Regions from separate parts of the Homo sapiens genome. Here all the other regions are reported to be linked to region 3. Evidence: microRNA targets listed by miRTarBase, many of them from high-throughput screens and not tested one by one. Region 3 holds a microRNA gene; each other region holds the end of a gene's coding sequence. Distances are between the middles of the regions.

The links. The annotated mature microRNA hsa-miR-548az-3p reads AAAAACUGCAAUCACUUUUGC and lies in region 3 at 1,894-1,914, shown strand. An mRNA with a match to its seed (bases 2 to 7 or 8) in the 3' UTR can be bound and repressed. Matches are read on the target gene's strand: a 7mer-m8 pairs with bases 2 to 8, a 7mer-A1 pairs with bases 2 to 7 and ends in A, and an 8mer does both.
Region 1: miRTarBase lists PCK1 as a target of hsa-miR-548az-3p. Seed matches in the 3' UTR shown: 7mer-A1 at 986-992 and 7mer-m8 at 1,403-1,409.
Region 2: the mRNA of NDRG1 is a reported target of hsa-miR-548az-3p. Seed matches in the 3' UTR shown: 7mer-m8 at 1,472-1,478.
Region 4: the mRNA of NCK1 is a reported target of hsa-miR-548az-3p. Seed matches in the 3' UTR shown: 7mer-m8 at 2,481-2,487.

The regions. Positions count from the first base shown.
Region 1 is chr20:57,565,457-57,568,702 of GRCh38, forward strand. It overlaps PCK1 (phosphoenolpyruvate carboxykinase 1), which reads left to right. Exons shown (of 10, transcript NM_002591.4): 10 at 1-2,665. The coding sequence ends at 348. Among named protein-coding and RNA genes, the nearest start is that of PCK1, 6.0 kb to the left of the region's middle. RefSeq lists an enhancer at 3,231-3,246.
Region 2 is chr8:133,236,031-133,239,276 of GRCh38, reverse strand. It overlaps NDRG1 (N-myc downstream regulated 1), which reads left to right. Exons shown (of 16, transcript NM_006096.4): 16 at 158-2,102. The coding sequence ends at 399. Among named protein-coding and RNA genes, the nearest start is that of CCN4, 47 kb to the right of the region's middle.
Region 3 is chr8:119,323,335-119,326,580 of GRCh38, forward strand. MIR548AZ (microRNA 548az) reads left to right here and starts at 1,837; the gene lies at 1,837-1,931.
Region 4 is chr3:136,948,201-136,951,200 of GRCh38, reverse strand. NCK1 (NCK adaptor protein 1) reads right to left here. Exons shown (of 4, transcript NM_001291999.2): 4 at 1-2,942. The coding sequence ends at 2,748. The region is part of intron 3 of IL20RB-AS1 (IL20RB antisense RNA 1); the gene reads left to right. Among named protein-coding and RNA genes, the nearest start is that of IL20RB, 8.3 kb to the left of the region's middle.

The sequences.
Region 1 (3,246 bases), not on the chromosome of region 3:
CTGCCCAAGATCTTCCATGTCAACTGGTTCCGGAAGGACAAGGAAGGCAAATTCCTCTGGCCAGGCTTTGGAGAGAACTCCAGGGTGCTGGAGTGGATGTTCAACCGGATCGATGGAAAAGCCAGCACCAAGCTCACGCCCATAGGCTACATCCCCAAGGAGGATGCCCTGAACCTGAAAGGCCTGGGGCACATCAACATGATGGAGCTTTTCAGCATCTCCAAGGAATTCTGGGAGAAGGAGGTGGAAGACATCGAGAAGTATCTGGAGGATCAAGTCAATGCCGACCTCCCCTGTGAAATCGAGAGAGAGATCCTTGCCTTGAAGCAAAGAATAAGCCAGATGTAATCAGGGCCTGAGTGCTTTACCTTTAAAATCATTCCCTTTCCCATCCATAAGGTGCAGTAGGAGCAAGAGAGGGCAAGTGTTCCCAAATTGACGCCACCATAATAATCATCACCACACCGTGAGCAGATCTGAAAGGCACACTTTGATTTTTTTAAGGATAAGAACCACAGAACACTGGGTAGTAGCTAATGAAATTGAGAAGGGAAATCTTAGCATGCCTCCAAAAATTCACATCCAATGCATAGTTTGTTCAAATTTAAGGTTACTCAGGCATTGATCTTTTCAGTGTTTTTTCACTTTAGCTATGTGGATTAGCTAGAATGCACACCAAAAAAATACTTGAGCTGTATATATATATGTGTGTGTGTGTGTGTGTGTGTGTGTGTGTGTGTGCATGTATGTGCACATGTGTCTGTGTGGTATATTTGTGTATGTGTATTTGTATGTACTGTTATTGAAAATATATTTAATACCTTTGGAAAAATCTTGGGCAAGATGACCTACTAGTTTTCCTTGAAAAAAAGTTGCTTTGTTATTAATATTGTGCTTAAATTATTTTTATACACCATTGTTCCTTACCTTTACATAATTGCAATATTTCCCCCTTACTACTTCTTGGAAAAAAATTACAAAATGAAGTTTTATAGAAAAGATGGATTTGCTTTGCTTGGTTTTTCTTATTTGAGCTACCAAGAGGAGAGAACTCTGATTAAATATCTTGTGATTTAAATCCTGCCCCCTCCCCAAGAAGGTGGGGACGTTCAGAATCACACTTGAAGAGGGGGTGCATTGCCTGGTCCCAGGGAGAAGGAGGGAGCAGATGGGGAGGAATGAGGCAGGGAACCATGGTTGGGGTTTTCTGAATTTGCTGAAGCCACTAGTTGGCATCCTTTAACAATTCTACAAACCTTTAGATGGTGAGGCTTATGTGGCAGGACTGGGAGGGTTTAATGCATGCTTTTTGACAGTTTGGATCTGGAGGGGTCTCAGGCTTCCACAAAAATTACATTGTGGACAGTTTCATAGGATTTTGCCTTTTAACTCTTCAAAGCAACAGTTTTCTCAACTGTCATCCCCGCGGGGGAGCAGAGGAAGACAAGTGAGAAGGAAAAGGGGACAGGATCTGGGTTGAGCAAGCATTAATTGAGCGCCTTCTGTATCCCGGACATCATGCCAACACCATGGGCTGCCCGAGAAGAGAGGTGGGTGGTTTGGTCCCCAGCTCTGCCTTGAACCCTCACCTGCTCTCCTCTACTCCCAGTGTTTATTGGATATTCCAGAACAGTCCAAACGAACCATAAACTTTATATCACAGATTCAATCTGTGTAAATACTATTATCTTCAAGTTGTAGTTTCTTTCTTGGGCCCAGGCTGTGAAATTGGCTTCACCCCTACCACACCCCAGCGGGCAGGCTTGTTCTTATGTCACACTCCACCCCTCCAGTCTCCTCAACTGGAAAACTTGCCTCTTTTCCTCACTTCCTCTGCTCCTTACAATGGCTTCATATGGAAGGTGAAGCTGAGATCACCCCAATTTTACAGGTGAGGAAACTGAGGTCAAGCTAGGAGCGTCCAGCGGGGCTGAGAAATTGCCAGGATTTCCTTCCCCATTAAGGAGCTGAGAGTCTTAGCTCCAGACACGTTGGCTTGTTAGAATATCAAAACCACCGAAGGGGAAAAACCACTTACTGGAATTAAATGCTATCTGCTGTATTAGTTTAAATCAGTGGCGTTCAAACTTGTTTCTCCTTTTCACTGCGGAACACGTTCTTGACATGTACTTGACTCAGAGTCCCATGTCTAAAGGAGACAGAGCCCAAGGCAGCCCACCTGAAGCTGGGGAGGGAGTCCAAAGTGCAAGCCACCTGGTCTCCATTTCCCCGCCCCTTGGGGGCCTTTGGGCAGCTCCTTGGACCCCTGAAAGAGGCCACCAGGATAAACTTTGTTAAAATGCATGCCTTGTGCCCCACTGTCCTATTACGGGCTTTCAGTAGTCTCCACTCCCTCGGCAGGCAAAGACACTGGCCATCTCCAAATTCCCTCCCCTCCTGCACAGCATCAGCCACCTGGCAAGCAGTCTCACATAGGACCATTTGCCAGCAGGCCCTGCAAGCCTGGGGGACAGCCTAGAGGAGGTGACTTACATACACAGCATAAGAGTTTTCAGGAGACCAAAAAGATTCAATATATGTCATTAACTCCTGACTCAGTTTCCCCAAACCATGCCTCCTGAGTGCTCCCTCTGTCTCCAAATCCTGATTTTTGTGCGCGGACCCCTGTCTACAATAAACAGGATCCTATGACTTCTTTCTTCAATGTTCTCTTGTCGTGCCTTCAGATGATGCAAAGTATGTAAGCTAAGCCCACTTGCAGGAAGCTCACAGAAGGCAAGAGGCTCATCACTTGAAAATACGGTTGGAGTGAGATGGAAAGCCCAGAGTCTCCTGATTCCTGGTCTACCACTGGACCACATGACTCCAAAACCAACACTGTGACTGACGTCCTCTACTGGAGTCCAGTGTAAGAGCTGTCCCCTGACCTCCAGGAAGCTGTGTTGCAGTCTGGGTTAAAGACCAGAAAACAATAGTTACACAGCAAATGTTGAACCAGGACAACAAACCTGCCCTTATTCCCAGTCGAGTCACTTAGGGGGCACTGACAGGTAGGCAGGCGGGGTGGCTAGGTGGGGCCGGGGCACACTTGGGAGTCAGGAGTTACAGGGCTCTTTCTCTTCTCTCCCTCTCCCTGGGGACCCACCCTAACCTGGACACCCCCGGGCTGCTCACTCGGCCCTCTGGATGCCAACAGCATGCACCTTCCAGAGTGCACGGTTTTGGCTGTAAGACCGCAGGTCATGGGCCCTGTTGAGCTCCCTTGACCTGCAGCCCTGCCAGAGG
Region 2 (3,246 bases), 14 Mb from region 3:
ACATGGAGAGGACGGGGGCCCAGCAGCTGGATGGCTGCAGGGATCAAGTCTTCTCTGGGGCTGGCACGTAGAAGAGCATGTGGCTGGTGGACGGGCATGCCTGGCTCCTCACCTGGCAGTCTCCTGCCCTCTAACCGGCTGTCTCTTGTTCCCCTAGTGCCCTCGGCTAGCATGACCCGCCTGATGCGGTCCCGCACAGCCTCTGGTTCCAGCGTCACTTCTCTGGATGGCACCCGCAGCCGCTCCCACACCAGCGAGGGCACCCGAAGCCGCTCCCACACCAGCGAGGGCACCCGCAGCCGCTCGCACACCAGCGAGGGGGCCCACCTGGACATCACCCCCAACTCGGGTGCTGCTGGGAACAGCGCCGGGCCCAAGTCCATGGAGGTCTCCTGCTAGGCGGCCTGCCCAGCTGCCGCCCCCGGACTCTGATCTCTGTAGTGGCCCCCTCCTCCCCGGCCCCTTTTCGCCCCCTGCCTGCCATACTGCGCCTAACTCGGTATTAATCCAAAGCTTATTTTGTAAGAGTGAGCTCTGGTGGAGACAAATGAGGTCTATTACGTGGGTGCCCTCTCCAAAGGCGGGGTGGCGGTGGACCAAAGGAAGGAAGCAAGCATCTCCGCATCGCATCCTCTTCCATTAACCAGTGGCCGGTTGCCACTCTCCTCCCCTCCCTCAGAGACACCAAACTGCCAAAAACAAGACGCGTAGCAGCACACACTTCACAAAGCCAAGCCTAGGCCGCCCTGAGCATCCTGGTTCAAACGGGTGCCTGGTCAGAAGGCCAGCCGCCCACTTCCCGTTTCCTCTTTAACTGAGGAGAAGCTGATCCAGTTTCCGGAAACAAAATCCTTTTCTCATTTGGGGAGGGGGGTAATAGTGACATGCAGGCACCTCTTTTAAACAGGCAAAACAGGAAGGGGGAAAAGGTGGGATTCATGTCGAGGCTAGAGGCATTTGGAACAACAAATCTACGTAGTTAACTTGAAGAAACCGATTTTTAAAGTTGGTGCATCTAGAAAGCTTTGAATGCAGAAGCAAACAAGCTTGATTTTTCTAGCATCCTCTTAATGTGCAGCAAAAGCAGGCGACAAAATCTCCTGGCTTTACAGACAAAAATATTTCAGCAAACGTTGGGCATCATGGTTTTTGAAGGCTTTAGTTCTGCTTTCTGCCTCTCCTCCACAGCCCCAACCTCCCACCCCTGATACATGAGCCAGTGATTATTCTTGTTCAGGGAGAAGATCATTTAGATTTGTTTTGCATTCCTTAGAATGGAGGGCAACATTCCACAGCTGCCCTGGCTGTGATGAGTGTCCTTGCAGGGGCCGGAGTAGGAGCACTGGGGTGGGGGTGGAATTGGGGTTACTCGATGTAAGGGATTCCTTGTTGTTGTGTTGAGATCCAGTGCAGTTGTGATTTCTGTGGATCCCAGCTTGGTTCCAGGAATTTTGTGTGATTGGCTTAAATCCAGTTTTCAATCTTCGACAGCTGGGCTGGAACGTGAACTCAGTAGCTGAACCTGTCTGACCCGGTCACGTTCTTGGATCCTCAGAACTCTTTGCTCTTGTCGGGGTGGGGGTGGGAACTCACGTGGGGAGCGGTGGCTGAGAAAATGTAAGGATTCTGGAATACATATTCCATGGGACTTTCCTTCCCTCTCCTGCTTCCTCTTTTCCTGCTCCCTAACCTTTCGCCGAATGGGGCAGCACCACTGACGTTTCTGGGCGGCCAGTGCGGCTGCCAGGTTCCTGTACTACTGCCTTGTACTTTTCATTTTGGCTCACCGTGGATTTTCTCATAGGAAGTTTGGTCAGAGTGAATTGAATATTGTAAGTCAGCCACTGGGACCCGAGGATTTCTGGGACCCCGCAGTTGGGAGGAGGAAGTAGTCCAGCCTTCCAGGTGGCGTGAGAGGCAATGACTCGTTACCTGCCGCCCATCACCTTGGAGGCCTTCCCTGGCCTTGAGTAGAAAAGTCGGGGATCGGGGCAAGAGAGGCTGAGTACGGATGGGAAACTATTGTGCACAAGTCTTTCCAGAGGAGTTTCTTAATGAGATATTTGTATTTATTTCCAGACCAATAAATTTGTAACTTTGCAGCGGCTTGTGTCTTTTTTCTGTCCCTGAGAGATTGTGTGTGTGAAACATTGCAGTGCAGGGATGGCTGTTTCACTGGGGGGTTGCCCGTCCTTGACACCTAGGGGACCCCAGCCCCTCATCTCTGGAATTCTTTCCTCGGAGCATCACGTCCAGCAGAAATTTAAGTCAGCTCATATGTTAATTCTAATTTCCCAGTGGCCACATTTTCAAAAGTGGAAAGAAACAGATGAAATTAATTTTAATAATACATTTCATTTATCTCAAGACGTCTAAAATATTACCACTTCTATAAAAACTATTGACCAGGTATTTTGCATTCTTTTTTCATTCTAGGAACTCTAGTGTGTTTCACACTCGCAATGCATTCAGACCAGCTGCATTTCAATTGCCCAGTAGCTTGGGCAGCACAATGATGAGGATAAAAAACTTTCCAACCTATAATTCGAGGAAAACAGCTTTTTTATTTTTAATATTTATTTTTATTTTTTGAAACGTAGTCTCACTTTGTCACCCAGGCTCAAGTGCAGTGGCACAATCTTCGCTAATTGCAACCTCCGCCTCCCAGGTTCAAGCAGTTCTCGTGCCTTAGCCTGCTGAGTAGCTGGGATTACAGGCATGCGCCACCATGCCCAGATAATTTATTTTTATTTTTATTTTTAGTAGAGATGGGGTTTTTGCCATGGCCAGGCTGGTCTCGAACTCCTGACCTCAAGTGATCCGTCCACCTAGGCCTCCCAGAGTGCTGGGATTACAGGCATGAGTCACCGTACCCAGGCTACATTTTGTTTGGATTACAAACAAATGTATGTGGAAAGATCATTCCTTTTCTCATGCCCAGTGACAACCATTGTAATGCTTGTTTTCTACTCTACATTAAAAAAAAGAGATTTTAGTGTAACCTCTTATTTAAACTAAGATTAGTTTAAAATATACAGACAGTTGCAAACAATACAGAGAGTTGCCATATAGCCTGTACTTAGTGACCCCTGTCACTAATATCTGACGTTACTGCATACTTGTCACAACCGGGAGATCAGTTGGACGTTGCTGTTAACTAAGCCCTGGACCATATTGAGAATTCACTGGGGTTCCCCTAATGTCCTCTCTCTGTCCAGGATCCCATCTGGGACACCCCATTACATT
Region 3 (3,246 bases):
CTCTTCAGTTTAATTAGGTCCCACTTAACAATTTTTGTTTTTGCTGCAATTGCTTTTGGGGACTTGGCCATAAATTCTTTGCCAAGGCTGATGTCAAGAGGGTATTCCCTAGGTTTTCTTCTGGGATTTTTATAGTTTGAGGTCTTACATTAAAATCTTTAACCCATTTGTAGCTGATTTGTGTATATGATGAAAGGGTCCAGTTTCATTCTTCTGCATATGATTAGACAGTTATCCTAGCACCATTTATTGAATACGGAGTCCTTCCCCAATTTATTGTTTTTGTCAGCCTTAGAAGACTGCCTATATTTCTAATTGATTACTCCTAATGGGTTTCAACTTAGCCAGAAGGATATTTCCAAAAATCAGATCAATCTTATTATAACTCTAAACCTGGCATCTGACTTCTCTCAGTGTAGACCAAGTAACAACACCAGACATAAGGAAACAGTGTGTATTAGGTGATTCAACCATAACACCTCACTATCACTAATACAGCATAAGCAAAGACATCCCACTCCTCTACCATCTCCCCCTTCATACTACATAGACATCCACACATGCACACACGTACACACATTCACACCCCCCCACCCACAACATGCACACACCCCTTTACATCATCATCAATACAACAGGCACTGGGAAAAAGATAAAGAGAGGGAGAAAGCCAACAACACATCCAACCCTATCCATATCGACACATAAACCCTGTTCAATACGTATACTATACAGAAGCCCTGCACAAGCTTTTAAAAAAGGAAAGTTTTACTACCCCAAATTAAGACTATTTTTAATCAGAAGTAAATAAAAAGTTATTTGTCAAACTGAGATATCACTGTTTCTTGTTGCCCAGCAGGGAAGGAATTCAACAAAGCAAACCTGGCAACAGTTATTGAAAAAAAAAATAGAATTGTCTTACATTCACAAACCATTAACTTGAAACTTCTTCATCAAAACTTTTATTTGTGCAAAGGCCTAGAGGTAAGAATAATCATGATTTATTCAGAGAAAGAAAGAAAATTTCAGAATGTTTGGAGCAGAGAAAACAAGAGAGAAGGAAAAAAGATGGGATTGAGTGGCTAAATGAAGGCAGTTTATAAATAACCCCCAAAGTATTATTCTAAATGTAATGGGGGATGATATTTAATCAGGATAATGCTATGATCTGACTGGATTTTTGGAACCATCCCTCTGGCTCCAATAGAAACATTTTTGGAAGTAATGAATTCAAAATACGGAAGACCAGAAAGGAAGGTGTTTTGAGACTAAAGACAAAAGATGATTGCCTGAACTATGATAATAACAAAAGATGAAGGTAAGCAAAAAATAAAAGGAGAGCCATTTTATCAAATAGAAACACAAGGCTTGATAACTGATTACATATAAAAAGTAAATGAGAAAAGGGCAAGTCATGGAAAATTATTGGGTATTTGGCTTTTATAATTAGGTAGATGGTGGTAATTTCACTGATAAAAAGGACACTAAAGGGGGATATTTATAGGATTTTATGTGGTGATATCTACTAGGTGACTAACAAATTAGATCTGAAGCTCTGGAGAAATATCTTGGCTGAAGATATAGATTTGAGAATCATGATTGAAATTATATAATTGAATTTGTGAGTATGAAAAATATAATCCTCAAAGAGAGGCTACGTGAAGCAAAAAAATAAAAATTCTATCTAGGCTAGAATCTGGAAGAAAATTCATATACAAGAGATTAGCAGAAAGCAGGGAAATTCAAAACAAACTGGGAAAAAGCAGAGTAATTAGAGAAAGTTTAAAAAATGTAATAATAATAGGGAAAAATATTTCACAAAGTAGGGAATATTCAAGATTGTATTAGGTTGGTGCAAAAGTGATTGTGGTTTTTGCTGTTACTTTTAATGGCAAAAACTGCAATCACTTTTGCACCAACCTAATAAATTTGCTGCACAGAGATCAAGTCAGTTGAGGATCAGTTAAAGAAATTATTGGTGACTCTGGCAAGAGCACTTTCAGTGGTGTAGCATGGGACTGGTCTATCAAAACTGCCATCTTATAATCATTCATATAAAACAACTAACCAATAATAAGAATATGGAAGACAGACTCGGCCTGTGTGCTTTGGCAACTTTAAGTTCCTTTGGTACTGCATATGCTGATCAACAAAGTAAATGATATTGAAGGTGTTGAGAGTATGGATACTATGCAATAAGAAATTACCCACAACACAAATGTACCAGAATTTGATTTGACGTGGAAATTTTACAAAATTTGTTTTGGGATTCAAGCTTGCTCTTTGGAAGAATAGTGAAAGACTTACTTATCATCTCCGGAACTCTAAACTTGCTGATGATCAAGGATGAGACAACCAAAATTATTATCACCATAAAAATATTAGTTAGAAGGATTGCATATCATTCAAAGTGTAGTATTACTACCTAAACATTCACTTTCAAATATATTCAAAATTGACTTGGAGTAAAAATTAATATCCATATATGCTTTATATGTTGCAATTCTTCCCAGAAAATCTTATCTTAGGGTCCATTTCACCATCAATATTTACAATGGCAGAGCTCAAAACAGAATAGCTTGCTCCTCCTTTGATCTAAATTGAAAGTGAGAGTCTACTGTATTGGGATTACACAGGTTTAGTGTATTGACCTCCACTGAGAAGGCTGGGAAATCATTGTGTTGTACAGTAATGTCAAATTATACACTTTGACTTTGAGCATTTTTAATGACAAAATTAAAATAAAATGTGGAAATTTTAATATTTATTCTTTTTTCCCAGAAGTTCATGCCATGAAGTGATATTCATCTTCAACTTCAACTTAGGCTGAATATTGACTTTAACCCTTGGCTAGACATTCAGCTAAAATGTGTAATTTCGTGGACCCTACCCAACAGTGTTTCATGGGCTTTTTTAGAAGGGTCTGCAATGTAGCATGCTTGCACAACAGTAAGTAATCAAAAAGCAAGATTCTTGACAAGAAAGTTAATGTGTTTAATTAACATATTAAGCAATCTACAGTAGCCTGAAATGTGTTAATGAAAATCATCTGGGGGAAAAATAAAAGGAAGCCCAGAAAAAGTCCATATGCCTAGCTGATGTGCTAGTTAATTCTACTCAAGGAAGGTTTTCTGTGAAGATTAGTGTAGCAAGAAACAAATCCCTCTGAATTCATGACACGATGCATGCCAAAAGAATAAGGAATTTGGGATTATAAAAATGCCTTATGGTGTGGTTATAGGTACA
Region 4 (3,000 bases), not on the chromosome of region 3:
TATATGGTAGGACATTACAGCTGGAGATAATTTAAGTGCCATATTCTGCAAGAATGACCTTATTCTAACAACCCAAGTTGCCCATCTGCTAGGCCTATTTATTCTTCTAGCAATGGCAATAGATTGCATGAAGCCTATTTTGTTTAGCAGTATTATTTGTCACTAATAGTGCAAGGTGCATGTGTTAACTGTATAGTGATATATGTGTAATATACATGTGTGAATATATATTCAGCTGAATCCTAAGGTTTTATGACTAAATAAGGGACACAATGGCATTTGTTTTTGTCACAAAGCTTATATCATGTTCTAAAAAACCTTCTAAGATTTTGGGGAAGTTATTTGTAGAAGTGAGTTAGGCAGGGTTCCATCTGACACATGTATTTAAATTTGAAACTAAGCATTCTCCTCATGTGGAAGAAAACTTCTGTAATATTGCCCTTCCCAGGACTCTCCTCCTAGTCTAAAACCAAGCATACACAGAGTAGTGTGTCACGATACAGACACCAGGCTGGGAATAAGGAAACTTGGTTTCTTATACAAGTATTGTTACTATCTAGCTATGTAGAGTTTTCCAGGGTTGTTTCAGTTCTTAAAGTTACTTCAAGTATTATAAAAACAGTCACTGGTATAAGCATTGGATTAAGACTTTTTAAAAATTGGTAAAATATTTAAGTACAAAATAAGTAGCTTCCAGCGAGGTTTTTATACCATAGTAAGAGCACACAATAGATATTACTAGCACACATGGGTTATCTGGGAGCGCTATAGCTACAATAAACCTAATTATGGAACAGAAATTTGCATTCTGTTTCCAGTGCTACTACACTCCTACTTTCTCAAAAGTCTGCTCTATTAATATCAGCTCAGTGCAGTTTACTATGAATAGTTTATGTCTGTGATGCAAAGCATTAATTGTTCTCTTTTTACAAACATACATTTTTTTCATAAGGAAGACTGGGGGAAAACCCAGAAACATACAGAGAAAAGGAAAGCATCATCAAATATATGTTAAAAATTAAGATGATGTTTACTACTAGTCATCCTACAACAATTTAAAGTTTTCCTCAATTTATATTCATTTGATTTTACAGCAAAGATAAGCATACATGATTTTTATTTCCATTAAAAACTTAACTACTAATAATTACCCTCAACAAAGGAGTACTGAGTTAGAAAAATAATAGAATATGAACTAAAATGTTTTAAAAGCAGATGTAATAGAGATGAAAATTTGTCTTAATTATATTTGGTCACTTCTGTTGCTTAGTGGGAGAAGCCATGGCTGCCACCCAGTGGCAACATAAGTCTTTAAATGATTTTAAGATTTAAATAATATTTAAAACATTGATAAAAAAAATTCACAAGTTACACAACTTCAATTTTACCATCAGTAATTCTGGCGTATTAGATATCTATTTATAACAGCAAAGAATTAAAACATCCATATGCTTAGGCAGCATTAGGGAATTTGTTGAAAGTATCATACGACATCCTACTCAGTTATGTGGCTTTAGTATTTTTCAATTAAAATACTGATGGCTACTTTACTTAAATTTAAATCTCCAGAATAATAGGGGGACAAATTATGACCATAAAATACAACTGGTTTTCTTCTATAGCCTACAGAAGCAGATTGGCCTCTTATCCATACACCCAAATTCCTACTTGGTTAAAAAACAAATTAAAAAATTAAAAATAATATAATTTTCCCTAACCATGAGCACATTCTATTTTTTCCTCAGGTATACATCAGTTTTAGTGTCCCAATCAACAAAACTTAAAGCTGAAAAGAGGAAATGAAAATAGGTAATACCATTCCTGACAATTACTGATATTTAGTGAGGAGAAAAAAACAAGTATCTCACTGCTTCCTGTTTTTGCAAAACTTGGCCATAACTTATTTCCCACTGGCATAAATATAACATGTCCTAATACAAGATGCTCTAGAGGTAAAATAATACAAGTGGGATTAAAAAAATAAATAACACTAGAGCATCTATTTACAGTTTGAAAAGCTAAATATCTCAGAGACTGTTTTGTTTTCTTGAATAACCAGATGAGGGAGAAGCACTGGAAAAAAATTAAGTGATTTTTATTTCCAACAGTTGTAAATTAAAATTGTACAACATGTTTTCTAATCTATGTCTCATGTGTCTTGCTGTATGACTGAAGACAATGAATGTATTTTTAAAAATTATGGCAGACACAATATACTTGGTATTTACAATGGCCTGTGACAAATATAATACCTGGAAATAATTTCTAATTTTCCACTTATTATTGCTATTTAGTCACAGAAAAGATTAACACTCTCCAAGAAATTTTAGCATATGTCATATATAGATATAATAATTTTATATAATGAAAAACCATAACAGAACAGGGTGCCTTTACAAGGAAACAAAGGAAAGGCAATAAAGGATTTCTTCCATATAAAGATTCTGATATGCATTATTTGATTTTTGTTTACAAAATACAAAACTGTAATATTAGAAGCAAAGGGAAAACAGCAAAGAAAAAAACAATAAAACAGAAGGCCAAGGATAAGGAACTGTTCTATGCAGATGCACTGCATACATAGTATATATGTATGGGCTGAGTTATAATAAAAATACTTATTGTCAATTCTCATATAGATTTAGAAACAACAATTTCCAATCAAGCACGACTGGACCCAACATTTTCTCAGTCTTCAATTACATGACAAATTACAGCTACACAGCAGTCACTTCTGGTCAGCAGTATCATGATAAATGCTTGACAAGATATAATTTTTCTCCTTGTTCACTTGTAAAAATTGGTGCCTTTTTGTAATGTTCTACAAGTTCTTCCATGGTGCTGAATTTACGCTGCCCAATGCAGTAGACAGTCTCTTTTAGTTGGACTTTAAAATGCTTGTTTTTCCCTTGTGCTTTTAGTGATACTGAGAAATCATTTGGCTAAAAGAGAAAAAAAAGATACATATAGTAAACATTTTGAAAGCCCTCTATCAGTATT